Linked DNA regions of Homo sapiens. The protein of the gene in region 1 interacts with the protein of each later gene in a pairwise test. Each region holds a gene or a part of one and is shown in the gene's direction. Other genes may lie near its edges.

The links.
Region 2: the proteins of CIB3 (region 1) and ZNF146 interact in binary tests that used the Homo sapiens proteins (3 or more experiments, as listed by UniProt).
Region 3: the proteins of CIB3 (region 1) and ZNF597 interact in binary tests that used the Homo sapiens proteins (3 or more experiments, as listed by UniProt).
Region 4: the proteins of CIB3 (region 1) and ZNF835 interact in binary tests that used the Homo sapiens proteins (3 or more experiments, as listed by UniProt).
Region 5: the proteins of CIB3 (region 1) and ZNF317 interact in binary tests that used the Homo sapiens proteins (3 or more experiments, as listed by UniProt).
Region 6: the proteins of CIB3 (region 1) and TRIM2 interact in binary tests that used the Homo sapiens proteins (3 or more experiments, as listed by UniProt).
Region 7: the proteins of CIB3 (region 1) and GMCL1 interact in binary tests that used the Homo sapiens proteins (3 or more experiments, as listed by UniProt).

What each region holds. Positions count from the first base shown.
Region 1 is NC_000019.10:16,163,526-16,167,025, reverse strand, and holds part of CIB3 (calcium and integrin-binding family member 3), read left to right. Parts: intron 1-2,112; coding exon 2,113-2,308; intron 2,309-3,500. UniProt on the Homo sapiens protein: Acts a an auxiliary subunit of the sensory mechanoelectrical transduction (MET) channel in hair cells. Plays a role in regulating hair cell MET channel localization and function.
Region 2 is NC_000019.10:36,221,606-36,225,105, forward strand, and holds part of ZNF146 (zinc finger protein OZF), read left to right. Parts: intron 1-3,500.
Region 3 is NC_000016.10:3,437,005-3,440,504, reverse strand, and holds part of ZNF597 (zinc finger protein 597), read left to right. Parts: intron 1-2,966; coding exon 2,967-3,500. UniProt on the Homo sapiens protein: May be involved in transcriptional regulation.
Region 4 is NC_000019.10:56,665,258-56,668,757, reverse strand, and holds part of ZNF835 (zinc finger protein 835), read left to right. Parts: intron 1-3,500. UniProt on the Homo sapiens protein: May be involved in transcriptional regulation.
Region 5 is NC_000019.10:9,143,397-9,146,896, forward strand, and holds part of ZNF317 (zinc finger protein 317), read left to right. Parts: intron 1-3,500. UniProt on the Homo sapiens protein: May function as a transcription factor. May play an important role in erythroid maturation and lymphoid proliferation.
Region 6 is NC_000004.12:153,210,943-153,214,442, forward strand, and holds part of TRIM2 (tripartite motif-containing protein 2), read left to right. Parts: intron 1-3,500. UniProt on the Homo sapiens protein: UBE2D1-dependent E3 ubiquitin-protein ligase that mediates the ubiquitination of NEFL and of phosphorylated BCL2L11. Plays a neuroprotective function. May play a role in neuronal rapid ischemic tolerance.
Region 7 is NC_000002.12:69,832,660-69,836,159, forward strand, and holds part of GMCL1 (germ cell-less protein-like 1), read left to right. Parts: intron 1-3,500. UniProt on the Homo sapiens protein: Possible function in spermatogenesis. Enhances the degradation of MDM2 and increases the amount of p53 probably by modulating the nucleocytoplasmic transport.

The sequences.
Region 1 (3,500 bases):
CAGACTGGTCTCGAACTCCTGACCTCAGGTGATCCACCCGCCTCAGCCTCCCAAAGTGCTGGGATTACAGGCATGAACCACCACGCCCAGCCAAATTTTTGTATTTTTAGTAAAGATGGGGTTTCACCATGTTGGCCAGGCTGGTCTTGAACTCCTAACCTCAAGTGATCCACCCACCTCGGCTTCCCAAAGTGGCAGGATTACAGGCATGAGCCACCGTGCCCTGCCACCATAATACTTTTTGAGTGAGTACATGAAAAATAGTTATCATGGTGCCCAACACATAGTAGGTGCTCAATAAATACTTGTTGCATGAATGAATGAATGAAAAAGTTATCAGAGTACCTGGCACACAGTAGACACTAATACTTGTTGAGTGAGTGAATAAAAGAGTTATGGTGCCCAACATGTAGTAGGTGCTCAATAAATACTTCCTGAATGGATGAATGAATGAATGAATAAATGAAAAAGTTATTACAGTGCCTGGTGCACAGTAAGCAGTTAAAAAGTACTTTTTGAGTGAATAGATGAAAAAAGTTATCACAGTGCCCACTACACAGTAGGCACTCAATAAATACTTGTTGAGTGAGTGAATAAATGAAAAACAGATATCATGGTGCTTGATACGTAGTACGTGTTCAAGAAATACTTGAATAAATGAATGAAAGAGCTGTCACAGTGTTTGGCACATAGTAGGCACTCAATAACTATTTTTATTTATTTATTTTTTTACTGAGACAGCGTCTCACTCTTGTCGCCCAGGCTGGAGTGCAATGGCGCGATCTCAGATCACTGCAACTTCCACTCCCTGGGTTCAAGCGATTCTCCTGCCTCAGCCTACCTAGTAGCTGGGATTACAGGCACCCGCACCACGCCCCGCTAATTTTTGTAATTTTAGTAGAGATGGGGTTTCACCATGTTGGCCAGGCTGGCCTGGAACTCCTGACCTTAGGTGATCTACCCATCTCCACCTCCCAAAGTGCTGGGATTACAGGCATGAGCCACTGCGCCGGGCCCATAACTGTTTTTTGAATGAGTAAATGAAAAATTATTATCACAGTGCCAGGACACAGTAGGCACTCAATAAATACTTGTTAAGTGAGTGAATGAATGAAAATTGCACTCAATAAATACTTGTTGAGTGAGTGAGTGAATGAAAATCAGTTACTGTGATGCCTGACACATAGTAGATGCTCAATAAATACTTGTATGAGTGAATAAAAAAGTTATTACAGTGCCTAGCACACAGCAGGCACTCAATGCTTGTAAAAATGAATGAATGAGGTTGGGTGTGGTGGCTTCCACCTGTAATCCTAGCACTTTGGGAGACCGAGGTGGGTGGATCACCTGAGGTCAGGAATTTGAGACCAGCCTGGCCAACATGGGGAATCCCATCTCTACTAAAAACACAAAAATTAGCCGGGCATGGTGGCAGGCACCTGTAATCCCAGCTACTTGGGAGGCTGAGGCAGGAGAATCACTTGAACCCAGGAGGTGGAGGTTGCAGTGAGCCGAGATCGTGCCACTGCACTCCAGCCTGGGCGACAGAGCGAGACTCCGTCTCAAAGAAAAAAAAAAAGAACGAATGAAAAATTCATTGCATAAATACTTGTTGAATGAATGAATGAACTCCCAGCAGGTCCCTGCCCAATTTTAAGGCAAGTTCCAGATTTTACACCAGGGTCTCGGGTGCCCTCCCAGGGCCTCAGTTCCTTTTTTTTTTTTTTTTTTTTGGACGGAGTTTCTGTCTTGCTGCCCAGGCTGGAGTGCAGTGGTGAGATCTTGGCTCACTGCAACCTCCACCTCCCGGGCTCAAGTGATTCTCCTGCCTCAGCCTCCTGAATAGCTGGGATTACAGGTGCATGCCACCACACCTGGGTATTTTTGTATTTTTAGTAGAGATGGGATTTCACCATGTTGGCCAGGCTGGTCTCGAACTCCTGACCTCAGGTGTTCCACCCTCCTCAGCCTCCCAAAGTGTTGGGATTACAGGCGTGAGCCACCGTGCCCGACCTTAGTTTCCCCTTCTTGTAACATGGGCACAGTATGTGCCCACAGCCGGCCTAGCCCTCCTGCCACCTGCTGTCACTCCCCATCCATCCTGCTCTGCAGATTTTAACAACGACGACTACATTTGTGCGTGGGACCTGGAGCAGACGGTGACCAAACTGACGCGGGGGGGGCTGAGTGCCGAGGAGGTGAGCCTGGTATGTGAGAAGGTGCTGGATGAGGCTGATGGAGACCATGATGGGCGGCTGTCCCTGGAAGATTTCCAGAACATGATCCTCCGGGCACCAGACTTCCTCAGGTGATGCTCTCCGTCACCGCCCACAGTCCATTTGCACATCTGAAGGGGCTCTTACGCAGACAGTTCACAGACTCTGTTTCTGAAAATTCCTCTATTCATTCTTTCATGACCTTGGGAAACTTTCTCAATTTCCCTAGTCTCAGTCCCTGCATCTGTAAAATGGGGATAATTAGGGACCCCCTGGGCACCTCTTGCGAGTGGATACACCTCTTTCAGCAAGCAGAATGTGGCTGGACTTCAGCCCTTGTTGCCTGAACAGTTTGCAGTGAACAGACTGTGTAACTGTACTTGGCAGCCTTTGGGGAAAATCAGCCGCCACTGCAGGGCAAAGTACGGCCAATAGGCCAGTCTGACCCAAAGCCTGGTTTTGTACCTCCTGTGAGCTAAGAATGGCTTTTATATTTTCAAAAGATCAAAAAACAATCAAAGAATAATAATATTCCAACCAGGTGGGGTGGTTCATGCCTTTAATCCCAGCACTTTGGGAGGCTAAGTGGGGAGGATCTCTTGACCCCAGGAGCTTGAGACCAAACTGGGGAACATAAGGAGAGTCCATATCTACAAATAAATAAATAAATAAATAGCCAGGTATGGTGGTGCATGCCTGTAGTCCCAGCTACTTGGGAGGCTGAGGCGGGAGGATTGCTTGAGCCCAGGAGGTCAAGGCCGCAGTGAGCTCAGATTGTGCCATGCACTCCAGCCTGGGTCACAGAGTGAGATTCTGTCTCAAAAATAAATAAACACATTAAAAATTTTTTTTTAATTTAAAAAAAGATTATTCCATGACACGTGACAGTGATACGAAATTCACTTTTCTGTGTCCATCAGTAAAGTTGTATTGGCTCACAGCCACACCCATTTGTGTACATTTTGTCTATGGCTGCTTGTGTGCTTCAACAACAGAGTTGCGTCATGGTATAAAGTTGAAAACATCAACTATTTGGCCATTTACAGAAAAAGGTTTGCTGAACCCCAAATTAATATATGGAGAAAATTCAGCACAGCTCCTGGCACACAATAGGTGTTTAATAAATTGCTGTTGCTATTATTATCTTATAATTTTTAAATTTCACTTTATTTTTTATTTTTTGAATTGACAAATAATGATTGTACATATTCATGGGGTACACAGTGATGTTTCTTTTTGTTTGTTTGTTTGTTTTGAGACGGAGTCTTGCTCTGTTGCCCAGGC
Region 2 (3,500 bases), about 20 Mb from region 1:
AAATGAATTTGATTACTATTGAAGTAAGTAATGCATTTCTGTGATTCAACAAAGATCTATCTCACAGAGATATCTCATTCTGCTCCCTTCCCCCAGTCACATTCTTCTTTGTCTTATGTAAACATGTCTTGTTTTTTTTTGTTTGCTTCTTGTTTATCCTTCAAGTGGGTTTTTTGTTTTTTGTTCTGTCACTATTATATATTTCTCTTCACTCCTGTTTCCCTCCACCTTACATAAAAGATAGCATACCACATGCACCTCCCTATATCTCACTTTCTTTAATAACAGTATGTCCTAGAGATAGCCCTTCCTTTTTTCTTTCTTTTTTTTTTTTTTTTTTTTTTGAAATAGTCTCGCTCTGTCACCCAAGCTGGTGTGCAATGGTGTTAACATGGCATACTGCAGCCTCCAACTGCTGGGCTGAAGTGATCTTCCTGCCTCAGCCGCCTGTGTAGCTGGGACCACAGGCACACTCCACCACACCTGGCTTTTTTACTTTTTGTAGAGATGAGGTCTCACTGTTTCCCAGATTGGTCTCGAACTCCTGAGCTCAAGCAGTCCTCCTCTCTTGGCTTCCCAAAGTGTTGGGATTACAAGTGTGAGCCACTGCACCCAGCCAAGGTGTTCCTTCTTAATCATAATCTTTAAAAGAAATTTTTTTTTCAGCTGCTGTATAAATAAGATGTCATTATTTGGATGCACCATGGTTGATTCAGTTAATCCCGTTGTTGAGCATTTGGATTGTTTCCAGTCTTCTGCTGTTGCTAACAATGCAGTAATGAATAATTTTTTTATGTGCGCCATTTTATACTGACACAGGAGTAGCTCTAAACTAGACTGCTATTAATACAAATGGCGCTGCCCAGTGGGTAAGTACTTACACTCCCACAAGCCATGTGCGAGAGCGTCTTCCCCTTAAACTCACCATGAGTGTAGTGTCGAATATTTGGTATTTCGCTAGGGACATAAGAGACAATCTGAACTTCAGTGTAGGTTTCATTTACATCCCTTCTTATGAATGAGAATTTTTTTTTATATGTTTAAAGGCCTGTATGTATTAATCTAGGAACTGTCTATTCATATCCTTTTCACCATTTTTCTATGGGGTGTCTTCTCCTTAGAGGAGCTGTTTATAAATTAGAAAGGTTAGCCCTGTATGAAATGAGTGGTGGCTTTTTTTTTTTTTTTTTTTGAAGTTTTCATTTGCATTTGGACATTGTTCACAGTGGTTTCTTTTTTTTTTAATCTTGCAGAAATAAGAGGTTTTGTTTTAATTTAGTAATAATAGTTTCTTTTTTTACATAGCCGTGCTTAGAATGAGCCCCCTGTGGTTGGTGAGCACAGAGACATCCCCGCACCACACCAAAGACCTTTTTATTCATGTATTTTTTAGAGGCACAGTCTCACTGTGTTGCACAGGCTGGCCTTGAACCCCTGGGCCCAAGCAAGTCTCAGACTCCCAAGTAGCGGGGACTACAGGCAGTGCACCACCATGCTGCTATGGTTTTCTTTTTATTTTCAAAACTTTTGGCTGGGCGCGATGGCTCACGCCTGTAATCCCAGCACTTTGGGAGGCTGAGGCGGGTAGATCACTTGAGGTCAGGAGTTTGAGACTAGCCCGGTCAACATGGTGAAACCCCGTCTCTACTAAAAATACAAAAAATTTAGCCAGTCATTGTGGTGCACGAGATCACACCACTGCACTTTAGCCTGGGCAACAGAGTGAGACTCCGTCTCAAAAAAAAAAAAAAATCTAGTTACATTTTTTTCTTTTTGAGATGGAGTATCTCTCCGTCCCCCAGGCTGGAATGCAGTGGTGCGATTTCGGCTCACTGCAAGCTCCGCCTCCCGGGTTCACGCCATTCTCCTGCCTCAGCCTCCCAAGTAGCTGGGACTACAGGCGCATGCCACCACGCCTGGTTAATTTTTTCGTATTTTTAGTAGAGACGGGGTTTCACCATGTTAGCCAGGATGGTCTCGATCTCCTGACCTCGTGATCCGCCCGCCTCGGCCCTCCAAAGTGCTGGGATTACAGGCGTGAGCCACCGCGCGTGGCTGATTCATCAGTCTTTTATGGTTATCAGACTTTTCCACTCTTAAGTTTCACCGATATTTTCAAATTCTTATAAAGTTACAGTTTTTTGTTGTTTGATTGTTTTAGAGTTGGATCTTGATCTGTCACCCAGGCTGGGGTGCAGTGGCGTGATCACAGCTGACTGCAGCCTTCATATCCTCGCTAATTTAAAAAAAAAAAAATTGTAGAGATAAGATCTCCCTGTGTTGCCCAGGCTGGTCTCAAACTCCTGGGCCCAAGTGATCCTGCTACCTTGGCTTCCCAAGTCAGAGCAATAGTTTTTTTAAGATTTTGTTTTTATTTTAATTTATAATCCATTTAGATTTTATCCTGGTGTATGCTATCAGATATGCATCCAGCTTTACCTTTTTCCAATTGGCTACCACGTTCTTTGACATCATTTATTAAAAGGTCTTACCTGGCTGGGCACGGTGGCTCACGCCTGCAATCCCAGCACTTTGCAAGGCCAAGGTGGGTGGATCACTTGAGGTCAGGAGTTCGAGACCAGCCTGGCCAATATGGAGAAACCCTGTCTCTACTAAAAATACAAAACATTAGCTGGGTGTGGTGGCACATGCCTGAATCCCAGCTATTCGGAGGCTGAGACAGGAGAATCGCTTGAACATAGGAGGGCGGAGGTTGCAGTGAGCTGAGATTGTGCCACTGCACTGCAGCCTGGGCAACAAGAGCCAAACTCCATCTCACACACATTAAAAAAAGGTCTTATGTTTACTATTTTTAGGATGCCACTTTGATTATATACTAAATTCTCACATTTATTTGGTCTGTTTCTGGGTGTGAGCAGAAAGACTGAGGACACTGCTATAGCCCAGGTGTAACAACCAGGGAAAATATTTATCTTTTTACTATTGAGGCTTTATCATTGTGTTTTACTTTGTGGTATAGCTAGTCTCTTAATTGCTCGTCCTTTTCAGTGTTTCCTGGCTATTCTTGCCTGTTTATTTTTCTTTGTAAATTTTAGGATTAGCTTGTCTCGTTCCAGAGGGGGAAAAGGTAGAACTAGTTTGTTACTTTTATTGGGATTGCATTAAATTTATAAAATAACTTGGGAATAGGGACATTTTTATGACATTAAATATTCCTCTTTATGTACGTGATACGTATTCTCGTTTCTTTTTGGGTCCTCTAGGGTGTTTTAAAATTTTTTTCATACAGGTTTGGACACTTCTTACTAAGTTTATTTCTGGATGTTTTGTTTTATGTTGCTATGAATGGAGTCATTGTTGGCATATATGAAGCTGTTGATTTCTACATACTAATATTATTCCCTGCTTTCCTTAGTTATTTGTAATTAGATTATATAATTGAGGCAGTAGGCATCCTTGTCTGTTTAGAATCTAATAGAAATGCCTTCAGTGTTTTTCTATTACTTTTATTATCATGATTTGCTTTTCAGTGTTTTTAC
Region 3 (3,500 bases), on another chromosome or scaffold:
CTGCCACCATGCCCAGCTAATTTTTTGTATTTTTAGTAGAGACAGGGTTTCACCGTGTTAGCCAGGATGGTCTCAATCTCCTGACCTTGTGATCACCCGCCTCGGCCTCCCAAAGTGCTGGGATTACAGGCATGAGCCACTGAGCCCGGCCGAGATGATCTCTTAAAGACAAAAATTCAGTCTAGTACAGTGCCTGTGGTTTAGTACAAGAGATGGCAGTATTTGGTAATCTTTCACAAACATTTGTTGCAGTTTACAATTTTACTTGGGAAATCCCATTAGTATCGATCACTATCATTTGCTAAAGACTGGAGATTGATTTACTCTTAAGGGGTGCTATGCCTTACTCACCTAAGGGGAACCATACACAGATGGACTCCTGTGCCTGACTAGATTTTATTTCTGACTAGGATTGAGTATCTAAACTATCTATTCTAAGTAGTTATTCTAAATAGTTTGGAATAGTTGAGATACTCAATCCTAGTCAGAAAAAAATAACTAGAGTAACTAGTTATTCTGAATAACTCATATTTTGTTTCTTCCACTTCTCTCTTCATCATGTTCATGTTGTCTTCTGTCTGCGTAAATGTATGGAGTATATTTATAATGGTTATTTAAACTTTTTTTTCTTGCTAGTTTTAACATTGATGTCATTTCTGGGTCTGTTTCTATTGATTGATTTGTCTTCTAGTTATGGGTTATATTTTCTATATTTTCTTTACTTCCTGGGTAAATTTTGGTCGGATGTTAGATTAAGAATTTTATGTTGTTGGACCCGGGATTTCGTTGTATTTTTAAAAATATTTTGGACTTTGTTGTGGGAGGCAGTTAAGTTACTTGGAGTCAGTTTGACTGTTTCAAGGTGTGCTTTTTTTTTTTGCTTTGTTAGGATAGGTTCAGATCAACCTTTCTGCTAGGACTTATTTGAGTTACTGCTAAGGCAGTTTTTTTCTGTGGACGTTGCTGCTCAATGTCTTATGTCTTTCCACTTTGGCTGGAGGCAACATGAACTGGTTATTGCTCTGTTATTCCTTTTAGGTGGTTCTTTCCACGGCATTGGGTAGTTTCTTCATGCACTTGTAGATTACTACTCAGCCAAAGTTGTGGGGTTATTTTTTTTTTGATACAGTATCTTGATCTGTCACCCAGGCTGGAGTGCAGTGGCACAATCACGGCTCACTGCAGCCCTGACCTCCCAGGCTCAAGCAGTCCTCCCACCTCAGCCTCCCAAGTAGCTGGGACTACAGGCATGCACTACCATGCTTGTCTTTTTTTGTTGTTTTTTTTTTGTAGGGATGGGGCTTTGCCATGTTGCCCAGGCTGGTCTCGAGCTCCGTGGCTCAAGCAATTCTCCCACCTCAGCCTCCCAATGTGCTGGGATTACAGGTTTGAGCCACTGTACCTAGCCTCAGGAAAGTCTTAAGGGGACCCCATGTAGATGACCTGAGCTCTCTTTCTGAACAGCTGCCTCTTTGCTGTTTTGCTTTCAAATTCTAGCTGCCTTGGCATCCCTGATCTCTGAACTCAGTCCCCTCAAATCAGCAAAACCACTTGGTACTGTTTGGATTCCCATGAACTATACTGCAGCCCTTTCTAGTCAGTGAGTTGGGAAAACTGTAGAACTTTGTTTCTCTGGAAAGAAAAGTTCCTTTTGTATTGATATATTTGCTTTATAACTGAAGAATACTTGGAAAATATTACACAGGAATGTTAGTTTTGTCAGCCATTCTTGTAAGTAGATTGGCTGTTATTTTCATGCAGTACACACAGCCTTCTACCTTGATCTTTCCTCAGTGAGGAGTAAAGAGATTTTGGAGAGTTCTCCTGGTGATAATAAAACTATTTCTGATAACCCGTGTGTTTCTTTGTTATGGAAGAAAAATGCTCACTTGATTGCTTTTTTTTCTTTTTTCTTTTTTAATTATTATTATTATTTTTTTTTGAGACAGAGTCTTGCTCTGTCGCCCAGGCTGGAGTGCAGTGGCGCGATCTCGGCTCACTGCAAGCTCCGCCTCCTGGGTTCACGCCATTCTCCTGCCTCAGCCTCCCGAGTAGCTGGGACGACAGGCGCAGGCCACCACGCCCAGCTAATTTTCTGTATTTTTTTTTAGTAGAGATGGGGTTTCACCGTGTTAGCCAGGATGGTCTTGATCTCCTGATCTCGTGATCCACCCGCCTCGGCCTCCCAAAGTGCTGGGATCACAGGTGTGAGCCACCGTGCCCAGCCTCTTTTTAAAAATTATTTTCTTTCCCACTCATTCTTGCTGTCATCTTTTTTTTTTTTTTTTAAGAAACAAGTTCTGGCTCTGTCACCTAGGCTGGAGTGCAATGGCACATCTCAAACTCCTGAGCTCAAGTGATCCTCCTGTCTCAGCCTCCTGAGTATCTAGGACTATAGGCATGTGCCACCATGCCTGGCTAATTTTTAAAAATTATTTTTTGTACAGATGGGGTCTCACTGTGTTGCCCAGACTGGTCTCAAACTCCTAGCCTCAAGTGATGCTCCCACCTCAGCTTCCCAAAGTGCTGAGATTACAGACGTGAGACACTGCCCAACCCCTCTCTTTGTTGATAAATATGAATCCTAATCTTTTTTCCAATTGTTAATTGTTCTGCTGTCACTTGAGATAGCTTCAAAAATGAAAGGCTCTTGAGGCCTAAATAGATTAGATGGAAAAGTTCACCTCTAGATAGCTGCTACTGAGATTGTCCTTAGTACCTATCCCACTGGACTCTGACTTAGTTATAGCTATTCTCTCCTTACCTTTGGATATTCACCCAAAACTGGATCTTCTGGGAGGCCAGGAGAGTCTGCTTGGTCCTGATTTTGTGTGGTTAGTGTCTGGGTTATAGAATAACCCTTCTAAGGTTTCCTGGTCCTGTTTGTAACTACCTTAGCTTACTTTTTCCCCAGTATCCCTTGAAGATATTGTCTATGTTTTGCTTTCTTTTGTTTTTATCAACAGGAGAGGAAGGCAAGCCTGAGATTAATCAGCAGTTAAGCCTAGAGTCTATGGAACTTGACGAGCTTGCCTTAGAAAAGTACCCCATTGCTGCACCCCTTGTCCCTTACCCAGAAAAATCCTCTGAGGATGGAGTTGGAAACCCTGAAGCGAAAATATTAAGTGGAACTCCCACTTACAAGAGAAGGGTCATCAGCCTTTTAGTTACCATTGAAAACCACACCCCATTAGTAGAACTCTCTGAATATTTAGGAACCAACACACTTTCTGAAATTCTTGATTCTCCCTGGGAAGGAGCCAAAAATGTGTACAAATGTCCTGAGTGTGACCAAAACTTCAGCGATCATTCATACCTAGTTTTGCATCAGAAAATTCATTCAGGAGAGAAAAAACATAAATGTGGTGACTGTGGAAAGATCTTCAATCATAGAGCCAACCTGAGGACACACAGGAGAATCCATACTGGTGAGAAACCTTATAAGTGTGCCAAGTGCAGTGCCAGCTTTCGCCAGCACTCTCATCTATCCCGACACATGA
Region 4 (3,500 bases), about 41 Mb from region 1:
CCCTGCCTTGCACCTCAGTTGCTCTGTCCAGCCCCACCCCCTTTACCTTTCCTCTGCCACCCTTGTCACCATCCTGCCCTGGGACCTTTGCACTTGCTGTGTTCTCCACCCTGAACACAAACATCATCACTCCCTCAGGGTCTCCTCTTGTCCTCTTGCTGAGGCACACGCTGCGGGAAGAGCATGTCAGGCAGAAAGAATAGCCCACACAAAAGCCCTGTCTTGACCAGGTGTGGTTGGTGGTGCCTGCCTGTGATCCAAGCCCTTTGGGAGGCTGAGGTGAGAGGATCACTTGAGCCAGGATTCCCAGGCTGCAGCGAGCTATGATTGCAACACTGCACTCCAGCCTGAGCAACAGAGCAAGACCCTGTCTCAAAAAAAAAAAAAAAAAAAGCCCTATTTTAGGTCCTTTGGGGTGTGACGGAATGCCATACTCTGGTGGCTTAGAAACAGCATTTATTGGCCGGGCACAGTGGCACATGCCTGTAATCCCAGCACTTTGGGAGGCCAAGGTGGGTGGATCATCTGAGGACAGGAGTTTGAGACCAGCCTGACTAATATGGTGAAACCTCATCTCTACTAAATACAAAAAATTAGCTGAACATGGTAGCGCATGCCTGTAATCCCAGCTATGCAGGAGGCTGAGGCAGGAGAATCGCTTGAACCCGGAAGGTGAAGGTTGCAGTGAGCCAACATTGTGCCACTGCACTCCAGCCTGGGCACCAAGAGCGAAACTCTTATCTCAAAAACAAAACAAAACAAACAAACAAAAAAACAAAAAAAGAAAGAAAGAAAGAAACAGCATTTATTTCCACACAGTTCTAGGGGCTGGAAGTCCAAGGTCAAGGTGCCGGCAGGTTTGGTGTCTGGTGAGGGCTGCTTCCTAGTTCATAGACCGGGCCCTCTTGTTGTGTCTTCATTTGGAGGAAGGGGCAAGGGAGCCTTCTGGGTCCTCTTTTATAAGGGCAGGAATCCAACGCCTGAGGGCTCCAGCCTCATGTCATCATCACCTCCCAGAGGCCCCACCTCCTAGCACCACCACAAAGGGTTAGGATCTCACACAGGAAGTGGGGAGGACAAGCTTCAGACGTAGCCTGTCCAGCAGCAGCAGGAGTGTACCCGGAGGAGCCAAAGGCCGAGCACTCTCTGCTGTATGCACACAGCCTACTAGTTGGTTCAGGGAATGCCTGTGTGTGAGGGGCTGAGCCCACACATAACATGAGGCCAAGCTTGCTGAGAGACCTGCCATGTCCCTCGGGAGAAGGGGAGGCTGGAGCCCTGTTTAGAGAGAGAAAACCAGGCAGAGCCTCAGAGCAGGTAGCCACTTACCTGCAGCCACACAGCCTGGAAAGGACCTCCCAGCAGTGTGAGCCCCCTCCTCTGGGGCTAGCCCCAGCACAGTGGATCCACAGGCAGCTGCCTCCTTCCCTCTCTCAGCACCAGGAGGTCATTTGTCCATCTGTCTTCCCATTCTGTTAGAACTAAAGCATCAGAAGTCAGTGGTGAGTTTCTCGCCAGCGTGCAGGTCCAGTGTACACCAGGCAATTGGTATAAATCCTTCAGCATCACAGCCCCACTAGAAGTAACTATATGTATGGCTTCTGTTATGGCTTTCTAAAAAACAGTGACTTCCTGGGCTCATATAAAAACAGATCCCTGCTTTCCACTGAAAATGTGCAAAGCAGACAGGGTAACCTGCAATAGCTTGAGATCACCATCTCTAACGACCCTGGGCCCACGAGCCAGCATGAACCTCTGAGCCTGGGAGACCCTGGGCAGCTCCTTCACTGATGGAGCCCTGTAGAAGGGGAGCATAGTGAGTTGAATAGTGTCCCCATAATGTGAAATCTGGGATCACTGTTGGCTGATTCTGTCTGGTGAGGGCTCTCTTCCTGGTTTACAGATGGCCGCCTTCTCCCTGTGTCCTCACACGCAGAGAGGACAGAGAGAGCAGAGAGTAAGTGAGCCCCCTGGTGTCTCCTCTTATAAGGACGCTAATCCTATTAAGGAGGATGCCCTCATGACCTAATCATCCTCCAAAGGCCCCACATCAAACGCTGTCACACTGGGAATTAAAGTTTCAACTGATTTTTCCCCAGAAAAGAAAACTGTCTTTCCAGTTATCTTAGCTCCAGCTTACAAAAAAAATCACAGATTAGGTGGCTGAAGCAATAAACACTTATTTCTTCACAGTGCTAGAGGCTGGGAGTCTGAGATCAGAGTGCCAGCATGGTCAGACCACACTGAGGACTCACTTCCTGGCTTGCAGACGGCTGCCTTCTTGCCATGTGTTCACCTGACAGACAGCGAGCTCTGGTGTCGCTTCCTCTTCTTATCAAAACATTAGTCCCAGCCAAGCGCGGTGGCTCACGCCTGTAATCCCAGCACTTTGGGAGGCCAAGGTGGGTGGGTCACCTGAGGTCAGGAGTTTGAGACCAGCCTGGCCAATATGGTGAAACCCCCTCTCTACTAAAAATACAAAAATTAGCCGGGCATGGTGGCGTGCACCTGTAGTCCCAACTACTCAGGAGGCTGAGGCAGAAGAATTGCTTGAACCCGGGAGGCGGAGGTTGCAGTGAGCCAAGACTGTGCTCCAGCCTGGGCAACAGAGCAAGACTCCATGTCAAAAAAAAAATAAAACAGTCCCATTGTGGGGGCCCCACCCTCATGACCCCCTCTAAAGCTAATCACCTCCCAAAGGCTCCATCTCCACAAAGCATCACCTTGGGAGTTAGGGCTTCCATGTATAAATTTTGAGGGGGCACAATTCAGTTCACAGCACCAGATTACAGGGCCATATTTTAAGAGCTGACAGATTCATGCTTTTTTTTTCTTTTTCAGGGATCTTTTAAATTTGTTTTTAGTTCCATTAAGTCAGTGATTCCCAACTGGGGGCAATTTTGTCCCCAGGGGAGGGGACACCTGGCAGTGTCTGGAGACTTTTTAAAGAAAATTCAGACAGGGTCTCACACTGTCACCCAGGCTAGAGTGCAGTAGTGTGATCACTACTCACTGCAGCTTCAACCTTCTGAGCTCAGCTGATCCTCTTGCCTCAGCCTCCTGAGTAGCTGGGACCACGGGTGCACAACATCATGCCTGGCTAATTTTTTTTTTCATTTGTAGAAATGAGATCTTGCTGTGTTGCCCAGGCAGCAGACAGTTTGCTGGTCTCAAACTCCTGGGCTCAAGCAACCACCTGCCTTGGCCTCCCAAAGTGCTGGGATTGCAGGCATGAGCCACCACGTCCGGCCTGGAGACATTTTTCATTGTTACAACTCAGGGGTTGAGGGGTAGTGTCCCTGGCAGCCAGTGTGGAGAGACCAGGGACGCTGCTCAACATCTCACAACACACAGGATGGGTCCCACCACACCAAATTATTGGACCCAAAATGTCATTGGCACAGAGGTCCAGGGACCCCATGCTAAGTTCTTACCAGTTCAGCTGTTAGCCATTTTTCCAGCTCAGGACAAGTGGCAACATTTAATTTTTTTTTCTATCT
Region 5 (3,500 bases), 7.0 Mb from region 1:
TCTTTCCAGTTTCTTATGTTGAATGCCTGTCACATCCCAAAGAATTGCAGTATCATACTTTATTGTATTTTAATTATAAATATCAAATATCATGGCTTCTTTGGCATGCAGATTTAGAATTTTTTTCTTTTAATTTTCATTTCTGTGACTTTTTTTCTGGTTATCTTTTGGTCATTGTTTGCCAACTGCATTGCTCTGTGGTCAAGCATTTTCTGAGACAAACATGGCCCCATGAGTGCTGTCTCATCATGTTCAATCTGCACATAGTTATTGAACTGCCTGCTTAAACTGGATTTGTGAGAGCTCTGGTGGTGGCTTCATCCATTTCTCCTTAGAATTCTGTCCCCCCTTTTTTTTTTTTAATTTTTGTGTTTTCCTTTTTTTTGAGGCTGTGTTTTATACACACAGGCACACACACACACCTCTTTTTGGATTTATAACTTTTTATTATGTAATACTTCATTTTTCTCTATGAGCCTTTTTGCCTTAATCTATTCTGTCTGATACTAACATTCAAACCAGCTTTCTTTTTTTTTTTTTTTACTTGCCTTATATATCCTTTTATTTCCATTCTTATTGTACTCTTTTTTCTTTCTTTCTTTCTTTCTTTCTTTCTTTTTTTTGAGACGGAGTTTCACTCTTTTTGCCCAGGCTGGAGTGCAATGGCGCGATCTTGGCTCACTGCAACCTCCACCTCCTGGAATCAAGTGATTCTCCTGTCTCAGCCTCCCAAGTAGCTGGAAGTACAGGCGCATGGCACCACACCCAGCTAATTTTTTTATTTTCAGTAGAGATGGGGTTTCATCATATTGGTCAGGCTGGTCTCGAACTCCCAACCTCAGGTGATCCACCTGCCTTGGCCTCCCAAAGCATTGGGATTACAGGCATGAGCCACCGCGCCCGGCTCTTATTGTATTCTTATATTTTAGATATCTCTTGTACGTAGCATATAATTGGATTAATCTATTCTGTGAATATTAGTATTTTAGTTAAAGCATTTATTCTGTTAGCATCTTCTGTATTAATATATTTGAATGTTACATTTGTCTTCTGTTTTTTCTCTAGCTTCTTTTGTGTATTTTTGTCATTCTCCTTTTTTATTTTCTGTACATTTTGAATTTATTTACTCTATTATTTCAGTGGTTGTTCTAAATAATTCTTACCCATGCTCATTCACTAAATCTAGATTTGCATATGTTACTCTCCTGATTTACATGGTTTTCTTATGCATTTTCATTCTTTCTTTATTGATATATCATAGTTGCACATATTGAGTTCTTTTTTTAAACCTCAGAAGAAATTATTATTGCTATTGCATACCATCATTTCTTGTTTCATTATACTCACATGTTTATCACTTTGAGCACTTTACTTGGTTCTTACACTTTTTGGTGTAATTCTTCCACTGTTTGCTTTGGTTCTTTAATTACTTCTTTCTCCCTGAGGTATGTCTTTGATGATGTCTCTTTTCTGTGGGTTGCAAGCCCACAGGAACTTTGTTTTTTGGTGCTCAGAAAACACCTCTTTCTCTCTTTCTCAGTGGACATTTTTGGTGGTAATAGAATTTTATATTTCAGAACTATGAAGATGTTCCATTATCTTCTGGCTTCCACTGTTAATGATGAGAAGTCAGCTGTCAGTCTAATGTTTGTTTGTTTGTTTTCTGAGACAGAGTCTCACTCTTGTTGCCCAGGCTGGAGTGCAATGGCGTAATCTCGTCTCACTGCAACTTCTGCCTCCTGGGTTCCAGCAATTCTCCTGCCTCAGCCTACTGAGTCGCTGGGATTACAGGCATGGGCCATGACACCCAGCTAATTTTTGTATTTTTAGTAAAGACAAGGTTTCACCATGTTGGCCAGGCAGCGGTTTTAGGAGCCTAGAAATGTGAGTTTTTCGTTTTGTTTTGTTTTGAGACAGGGTCTTGGTATGTTGCCCAGGCTGGTCTCGAACTCCTGCGTGCAAGTGATCCACCTGCCTTGGCCTCCCAGCATGCTGGGATTACAGGTGTGGGCCACCATGCCCAGGCTTACTTTGTTTCTTAATGGAGAGATATTTACGGTGTGTTTTAACAAGACCTCCAGGTGACTCCCATGTAACTTAAAGTTTGAGAACTATTGCTTAAAAGGTAACCTGTCTTTTTCTCCTCTGGCTGCTGTTCAGATATTCTTTTTACCGTTGGTATTATCTGGTTCATTGTGCTTAAGATTTTATCTCTCTTCAATCTGTTTATATTTTCCTTCAAAATGAAAAATCTACAGCCACTATATTTTGCAGTGATTGCCTAGGCTCCTTCTCTGTCTCTCATCAGTAACTCCAGTTAGAAATGGTTCAATTCCTTATCTTCTGCCCCCACGTGGTTCTTAGCTGTATTTATGTTCCTCAACTCTTTTTCTGTGCTTCCCTTGCATTTATTGCTACAACTGGCTTTGAAACTTCAGCCTTCATAAAAATTTCATGTAGAGTTTATTAAAATACTGATTCATCAGCCCACCCCAAAGAGAATTGAACTGAGATATGATCTGGGTGTCAGAGTTACTTAAAGTGTTCCAGGGGACGCTTATGCAGCAGACTATATTTAAGAAACAAATTATTATTATTATTATTATTATTGGCTGTGTATAATCTAAAAGCTATTTACTTAGGGCTTTTGTTGTGGGTTTCCATTTTGCTTTTTTTTTAGCAATTGTAATTGCCCTTTAGAAATCATAAATTTTTAATTTTCTGAATGTTAATTTCTTGCCAGCACATGAATTTGAAACCTATCATCTGTCTGTACTTTGTGTTGCATTTGAAATAGTTATGCATGGAAGGTTTAATTGGGGCACCTAGGTTGCTTGTTGGAAACAGAATTCCTACCCTGCTCCCCACCCCCTGGGACATCTCATCTAGCTGGTTGAAAGGAGGGTATATTGATTTACTAATGTAATGCATTTCTGGACCAAGAAAATGGCATATGATGTTCTCACAACCTTTGTTGCCTTCTCTGTCTCTCGCTATATATATATTGTATATATTATTTATATACTTTTTTTCTTTTTTTTTTTTTTGAGGCAGTGTCTCATTTCTGTCACCCAGGCTGGAAGTGCAGTGGCATGATCTTGGCTTACTGCAACCTCCGCCTCTCAGGTTCAAGCAATCTTCCCACCTCAGCCTCCCAAGTAACTGGGACTACAGGCATGTGCCACCATGCCTGGCTAATTTTTTTGTATTTTTAGTAGAAACGGGGTTTCACCATGTTGGCCAGGCCAGTCTTGAACTCCTGACTTCAAATGATCTGCCCGCCTCAGCCTCCCAAAGTGCTGAGATTACAGGCATGAGCCACCATGCTGGGCCTATATTTACGTGAATAACAGTGGTAGAAATGGTTCTAGCAAGGGCAGAAATACCAGTCAGTAAAAGTAACAAAATAATTATTCTCTCTACAGTATTTACATCTGCAAATTCTGAATATCCTGGGATACTGTGATTAAGTTGAATATGGGGATAAAATCAAATATTGG
Region 6 (3,500 bases), on another chromosome or scaffold:
GTAAACCCAGACATGCAGGGCACCATTGTCTGAGCTGTCACTGGAGGGCTGGGAGGAGACAGGGGATGGGGCAATGGCAGCCTACCCACCCCTCCTCATCACTGTCCAGGGGCATTCAGGAAACACAGGCTTCCAATATGAGGCTGCCTTTTTTTCTCACAAGCCATGCTCACTAGGAATCCATAGCGGCCATCTGCACACCGACCTGGTGGTGTCTCAAGCTTCCAGGTGTGGTTTTGGGGGCAGGGTCCTTGAGGAAGGGGGTGCTGCTGACAGTGAGGTAACCTGAGGTCAGCTCTGGACAGGGCTGGGTGGAAGAAGAGTGTAGTGACTGCTGATCCCTGTCCTTTCTAGGAATTGGGGTTACTGGGTCAGAGAAACATCTCAATACCTTCCAGGCTTCCAAGGCTGGTTGTAAACCTGCTCCTTGATAAAAGAAACTACATCCAACCTTTAGGAGCAAGGTGGGGTAACATGGGAGCAGATCTTAGTTCATTTGTTTGTTTGTTTTTGCTTGCCTGCTTGCTTTTTTGTTTTTTCTTTTTCTTTTTTTTTTTTTTTTTGAGACAGGGTTGCACACTGTTGCCCAGGTTGGAGTGCAGTGGTGCAATCATGGCTCACTGCAGCCTTCACCTCCCAGACAGGTGATTCTCCCACCTTAGCCTCCCAAGTACCTGGGACTACAGGCATGCACCACCATGCCTGGCTAATTATTTTTTATTTTTTTGTAGATATGGGATTTTACCATGTTGCCTGGGCTAGTCTCTGAACTCCTGGGCCCAAATACTCTGCCCACCTGGGCCTCCCAAAGTGCGGGATTACAGGCATGAACCACCTCACCCAGCCTACAAATTCTTATATGACAATTTGAATCTCTGCTTGGATTTGTTTTATCCTCTCTTGTGCTTGTAACTCAAACTTTAATACTTGAAAAGTTTCATCAAAATTTAAATATACTTTTCTAAATCTGTGAGAAGGCTGTCTCCCAAGATGGTTTGTTACTGCACATCTTTTCCCCGGTAGATGGAAATATCCCTTCTCTATTCTCTTTCCCTTAGTCTTTCAAAAACTCAGTGAGGAGGAAGTGCTTGCTTCTAGCTTCTGGCGGTAGGCTACATTTCCCAGCCTGTCAGAATGGCCTCTCTGCAGGCTTCAACCCTTATGAGAAATAAAGCTGTCCTTTAGCAAAGTCATCAAGCTAAGTGTCTGTCAACAGATGATGATTAAAGTGTGGTACATATACACCATGGAATACTACTCAGCCATAAAAAGAATGAAATCATGCCTTTGGCAGCAGCATGGATGAACCTGGAGGCCATTATCCTAAGTGAAATGAGTCAGAAACAGAAAGCCAAAAACTGCATGTTCTCAGTTATAAGTGGGAGGTACACAGTGGGTATATGTGGACATAGAGAGTGGAATAATAGGCATTGGAGGCTCCAAAAGGTGGGAAGATGGAAGGGGATAAAGGATGAAATATTGCCTATTGGATATAATGTACATTACTCAGATGATGAGTACACTAAAAGCCCAGACTTCACCATTACGCAATATTTCCATGTAAGAAAGCTGCACTCGTGGTGGTGTATGCCTGTGGTCCCAGCTATTCAGGAGGCTGAGGAGAGAGAATTGCTTGAGCCTGAGAGTTCGAGGCAGTGAGCTGTGATTGCACCACTGCAGTCCAGCCTGGGCAACGAAGTGAGACTCTGTCTCTAGGAAAAAAAGAAAAAGAAAGAAAAAGAAAAGAGGTGGATGCAGACTGGAGATTTAGGAAAGCCTTTTCAGCTCCTTTCTCTTGCCAAGTCTTGTTTGTGGCTTTGGTGGGTGGTTTTGTTTGGGGGCCTGTCTTCTTTATTCCCTTTTCTTTTTTCTCTTAATCAAAGCAGTCTGTTCTGGTACTGCAGTGAAACAACTCTTTCCAGTTCCTTTGCATGGTGGTTGTGCACGTAGCCTCCAGGCCTGGGCTTGCATCAGTCATTTTGTCTATTCATACAAAGGGAAATTTAGGCTTTGTTCAGTTCATCTCCTACCAGGGCATGTACTTTCACAGCTACTGCCTGGGAAGCTTTGTGTGCATGAGATATCACCAGTCTGCCAGGCTACCAACTTGACTGTAAGTGGAGAGACTAACTGATGAAGCAATGACTGTGTGCCAGGAACTGTTCTAAGTGCTTTATGTGTATGAGCCAGTCAGCCCACTATTACTGTTCTTCTCCATTTTCAGGTGAGGAAACTGAGGCTCAGATTGTTGAGAAAATTGTCCCAAGCCGCACAGCTGGTCAGGGGCAGGCCAGCATTCAGTTTCCAGAGCCTGTGTTTTTAACCATTATGTGATGCCTCCAGGGTACATTATATTCTTTTGCATGAATGTGCAAAAATATGTCTTCATGCTTCTATTTCTGTTCATTTAACTTGTTTCAATTTTTTTCTATCACAAATAATACAGCAATGAATGTTTTTGCAATAATAGCTTATAATGATAGTTAACATTTGTCGAATCGCTAACAAAGTGATGGGCTCTGTTTCAAGTTCTTTATGCATCTTAATTAATTTAATCTTTGTAGCAATCCCACTATTATTTTTTACTTATTTATTTATTTTTTGAGACAGAGTCTCGCTCTGTCGCCCAGGCTGGAGTGCAGTGGCACGATTTTGGCTCACTGCAACCTCTGCCTCCCGAGTTCAAGCAATTCTCCTGCCTCAGCCTTCCAAGTAGCTGGGATTACAGGTGCATGCCACCATGGCTGGCTGACTTTTGTATTTTTAGTAGAGACGGGTTTCACCATGTTAGCCAGCTGGTCTTGAACTCCTGACCTCAGGTGATCCACCCGCCTCGGCCTCCCAAAGTGCTGGGATTACAGGTGTGAACCACTGTGCCTGGCAAATCCTACTATTATTACTATTTAACGAATTTAATCTTTGTAACAAACCTACTATTATTACCATTTAACAGAAGAGGGAAACGAGGCACAGGACAGTTGGCTACATATTTTGTTCCAGATTGCACAATTAGAAAGTGGCAGCTTAGCACCATAAGACATAGTGAGGAAAAAAGAAAAAAAAAAAGTGGATGGGCTGGCATTGAAACCCAGAGCTGGTACTCTTATGATAGTGTCTAGACAATATCTGTGACCACACCTCTGATTGTACCTCAAGAAGAAAGATTTTTAAAGTGAAATTACTAGAGCATAAGATATAAACATTTAAAAGGTTTTTGATACATCTTACAAAAGTGCTTTTCAATAACACTGATTGATCATGCTCATTTGCATTTCCATGAGCACTGTGTAATTGATCAAGGACTCTAAAAGTTAGATAAGCCACTGATAAATGGAGATGCCCCTCTAAGTCCCTGGGCAGTAAAACCTGACCAGCATAGCCTCCAATAACCTGCATAGTGTTGAGGAGAGCTTGGATTTAAGAGATTAAGAGGGTCAAACTCTTTTCTGTCCATTTTAAAATGCAAGTTTTATTTAAGAGGAACTATCTAATATGCTGAA
Region 7 (3,500 bases), on another chromosome or scaffold:
TAAACAGCATATAGTTGAGTCTTGCTTCTTTTGTCCAACAGGACAATCTAACCTTTCAATTAGTAGTTAGACCACTTATATTTAACGTAATTATTGAAATATATGTCACAGTGCATTTGAAGGAGAGAAATCACACAGCAATTTGAATACAGGAAATTTAATATAAACATTATTAACAAGGCACAGAGAATTAACTACTGAGGACAAAACGCTAAGGTAAAGAGATCCCTAGAAAATACATGTAGTAGTCAGTACTTCTAAGGCTGAGGCAGAATAGCCACAGAAGGAACAAATTTGGAATAGGTGCCCCCACCCCTTTCCCAAGCTAAGATTCAGATGATGTTGAAGGAGGTGTGGCTGTAGCCCACTGGATGGTGGAAAAGTTTGCTCAAGTGTGGTAAGCTGAGGCTGGCAAGTAGGACACTGCCTACTAGGATGCCAACAAAATTATTTGGAGGCCTTTTGGCCCAGAAGGCTAAAGATATTTACTATCTAGACCTTTACAGAAAAAGTGTACCAACTCCTAGACTACATGAGTGGACTGGAATGGAAAGTTTTTAAGGCAAACCTTTATCGGAAAATGCATATCAGAATTTAGTGTCTGTATATTACTGGAAGATGCTTGGATTATTCAGCCCAATACGGATGCAGGGTGTAAGAAAATACTAAGACGGGCCAGGCGTGGTGGCTCACGCCTGTAATCCCAGCACTTTGGGAAGCCAAGGCAAGCAGATCACTTTAGGCCAGGAGTTTGAGACCAGCCTGACCAACACAGTGAAACCCCGCCTCTACCAAAAAATACAAAAATTAGCCAGGCTTGGTGGTGCACGCCTGTATTCCTAGCTACTTGGGAGGCTGAGGCAGGAGAATTACCTGAACTCAGGAGGCGGAGGTTGTAGTGAGCCAAGATTGCGCCACTGCGCTCCAGCCTGAGCAACAGAGTAAGACCCTGTCTCAAAAACTAAACAAATAAAAATTTAAAAGAGAAAGTATTAAGATGTTGAATTTTGTGTGTTGGCCCTAGTATATACTTCCTGAGGTTGTCTGGTGTGCTCTCCCACATCAACAGACCACTTTATGAGAAGTTTTAGCTTTTAGGCCCAACTTCCACCTCATACCTTTGTCAACTGCATGTTCTACTTTTACATTTACGAGACTGTTAAAACCCACACTGTTCTACAACCAGATCTTGAGTGTTTTGTCCGTAGCTTGTCTCTAAAAAATTGAAACGACATTACATAGTTATAACTAAGTAAATATTGTTTCAGAAGAGTTAAGTAGTATGCTAGGATTATAAATCATACTTGATGGGTCCAGTGTCACAACTGCTTGTCTGTTCAAAGGGAGAAATTTTTCTAACCTCACAGTCATATGGAATCTTTTCTTGTATTCCATCAAGTGCTTAAAGTCAGGCCCTGCTTTTGTTTTTATCTTATTTGGACAGTGCCTTTTTTTGTATTGCTTTTTTATTGTCCTAGAGTTTATAATGGCCTTTCCCCCACTCTTGTCAAAATAACAATATTCCTTCATCATGGCTTCGGGTTTTTCTGAAAAAACACAGAAAAGTCTTTTGAAACACACTTTCATGGAATCCTTCTCTAAAACCTAGACCTCTTCCATCCTCCTGTTCCAATCTGGATTTGTCTACTCTTATGCTGGGACTTACTTTCACCCCATCTCTAGGATTGAATCCACTATTTTGTGTAGCCTGCATTTCTTTCTCGCTTATTTTAGGAACTATTTAATACATCCTCAAGTATTTTCCAAGGAAGGGTGCAAAAGGGGGTAATTTGTGCGTATCTAAATATAAATTTAGTCTCTTTTACTTTATTCATCCTCTGACTGGGTATGGAAATCTAAAGTAACTTTCTTCATATCTTTGATGACGCTGCTTCATTGTCTTCAGGCCTACAGTCTTGATGAAAAATTTGATTCTGGTGTAATTCTCTTTTCAGGTGACCATTTTTGCTCTCTGGAACTTGTGGAACTTTTTCTTTGGTATTTTGGGATTTAATTAGAATGTGCTTAAGTGTGGGTCTTTTAATGGCCTTGGTACTTGTTGGATCCTTATAATCTGGAGACTCATATACTACCTTAGTTTTGGGAAATTTTTTTCCATTAATTTCTTCCATAATTTCCTTTCGCTTCTTATCTTTATTTTTTCTTTCTGGGATGCCTCTTAACTGGATTTTGGATTTCTTGGATTATGCCTGTCTCTTCTTTTTTCCTTTCTTTGTCTTTTTGCTTTATGTTCTGGGAAATTTCCTTTAACTTTTTCATCACTATCATTAGGTTGTTTGGCCCTAACTATGAGGTATTTCTTTTGGACCAGGGGTGAAAATTACTAAAATATGAAATGTGCTGTGATCCATGAAAGCTTGGGAACCTCTGCTCTACAAAGCATGCCCCACCTATAACCAACTTCGTAGTCTTCTTACTCAAAGAAGAGGTACCTTGGAAATAGATCTATTTACTCAATTAAAACACCATACATCAGTTATTCATTCTTAAATATAAGTGGACAAGCAAGGAAGGATCACCCAACATGAGGAAGAAAAACAAACAAACTATTCTTTGGTTTATTTGTTTTTTTAAATTTCAGTAATCATGTCTTTAGTCTCTAAAAGCTCTTTCTTGTTCTGAGTGATCCTTTATCATAGCAGTCTATGGGGTAAATATAATAATCTCAGATCTCTAGGTATACTGGTGAGAGGGTGTTTTTTTCCTCTCTTTTCCCTGAATTATATGTTTCCAGGGGTGGAGGGAGTCTCTCTGTCTCTCTGATATGCTCTTATTCTTCCTCATGGTGGGTGATCCTTCCTTGCTTGTCCACTTATATTTAAGAAGGAGTAACTGGTGTATGGTGTTTTAATTGAGGAAATAGATCTATTTCCAATGTACCTCTTCTTTGAGTAAGAAGACTACGAAGTTGGTTATAGGTGGGGCATGCTTTGTAGAGCAGAGGTTCCCAAGCTTTCATGGATCACAGCACATTTCATATTTTAGTAATTTTCACCCCTGGTCCAAAAGAAATACCTCATAGTTAGGGCCAAACAACCTAATGATAGCAGATTGCATGGTATCTGAAAGATGTTACTGTGTTTCCTTCGAATTTAAAATACTCCACATGCCTCTCTGAGTTGGCTGTGGTGCTCTAAGTTCAGATGGTATCCTGAACTGGTGAATTTCACACACGGTTTGGGAACCATGACTTAGGGTGAATGGATTGGGAGTGAACAGGCCACAGATTCTTTAAATTTCAGAATGAGGATTGCTTTGTCTGGGCACCAGCAGCTACACTACAGCCTTAGATCTTCCATTAGCTTTGTGCTATTTCTAGAAAAACCTTGGAATCTTTTTGCCTCAGTATCTGTACTCTCCTTATCTATACTCTGTGTTCATAGAGTGGAGAAGGCACTAGTTTCCCCATTTTCTGCCCCTCTTCTTACTTCTGCCTTTGTTTCCCTGAGACCTCATCCTTCTTTTCTCCCAAGGGTTCT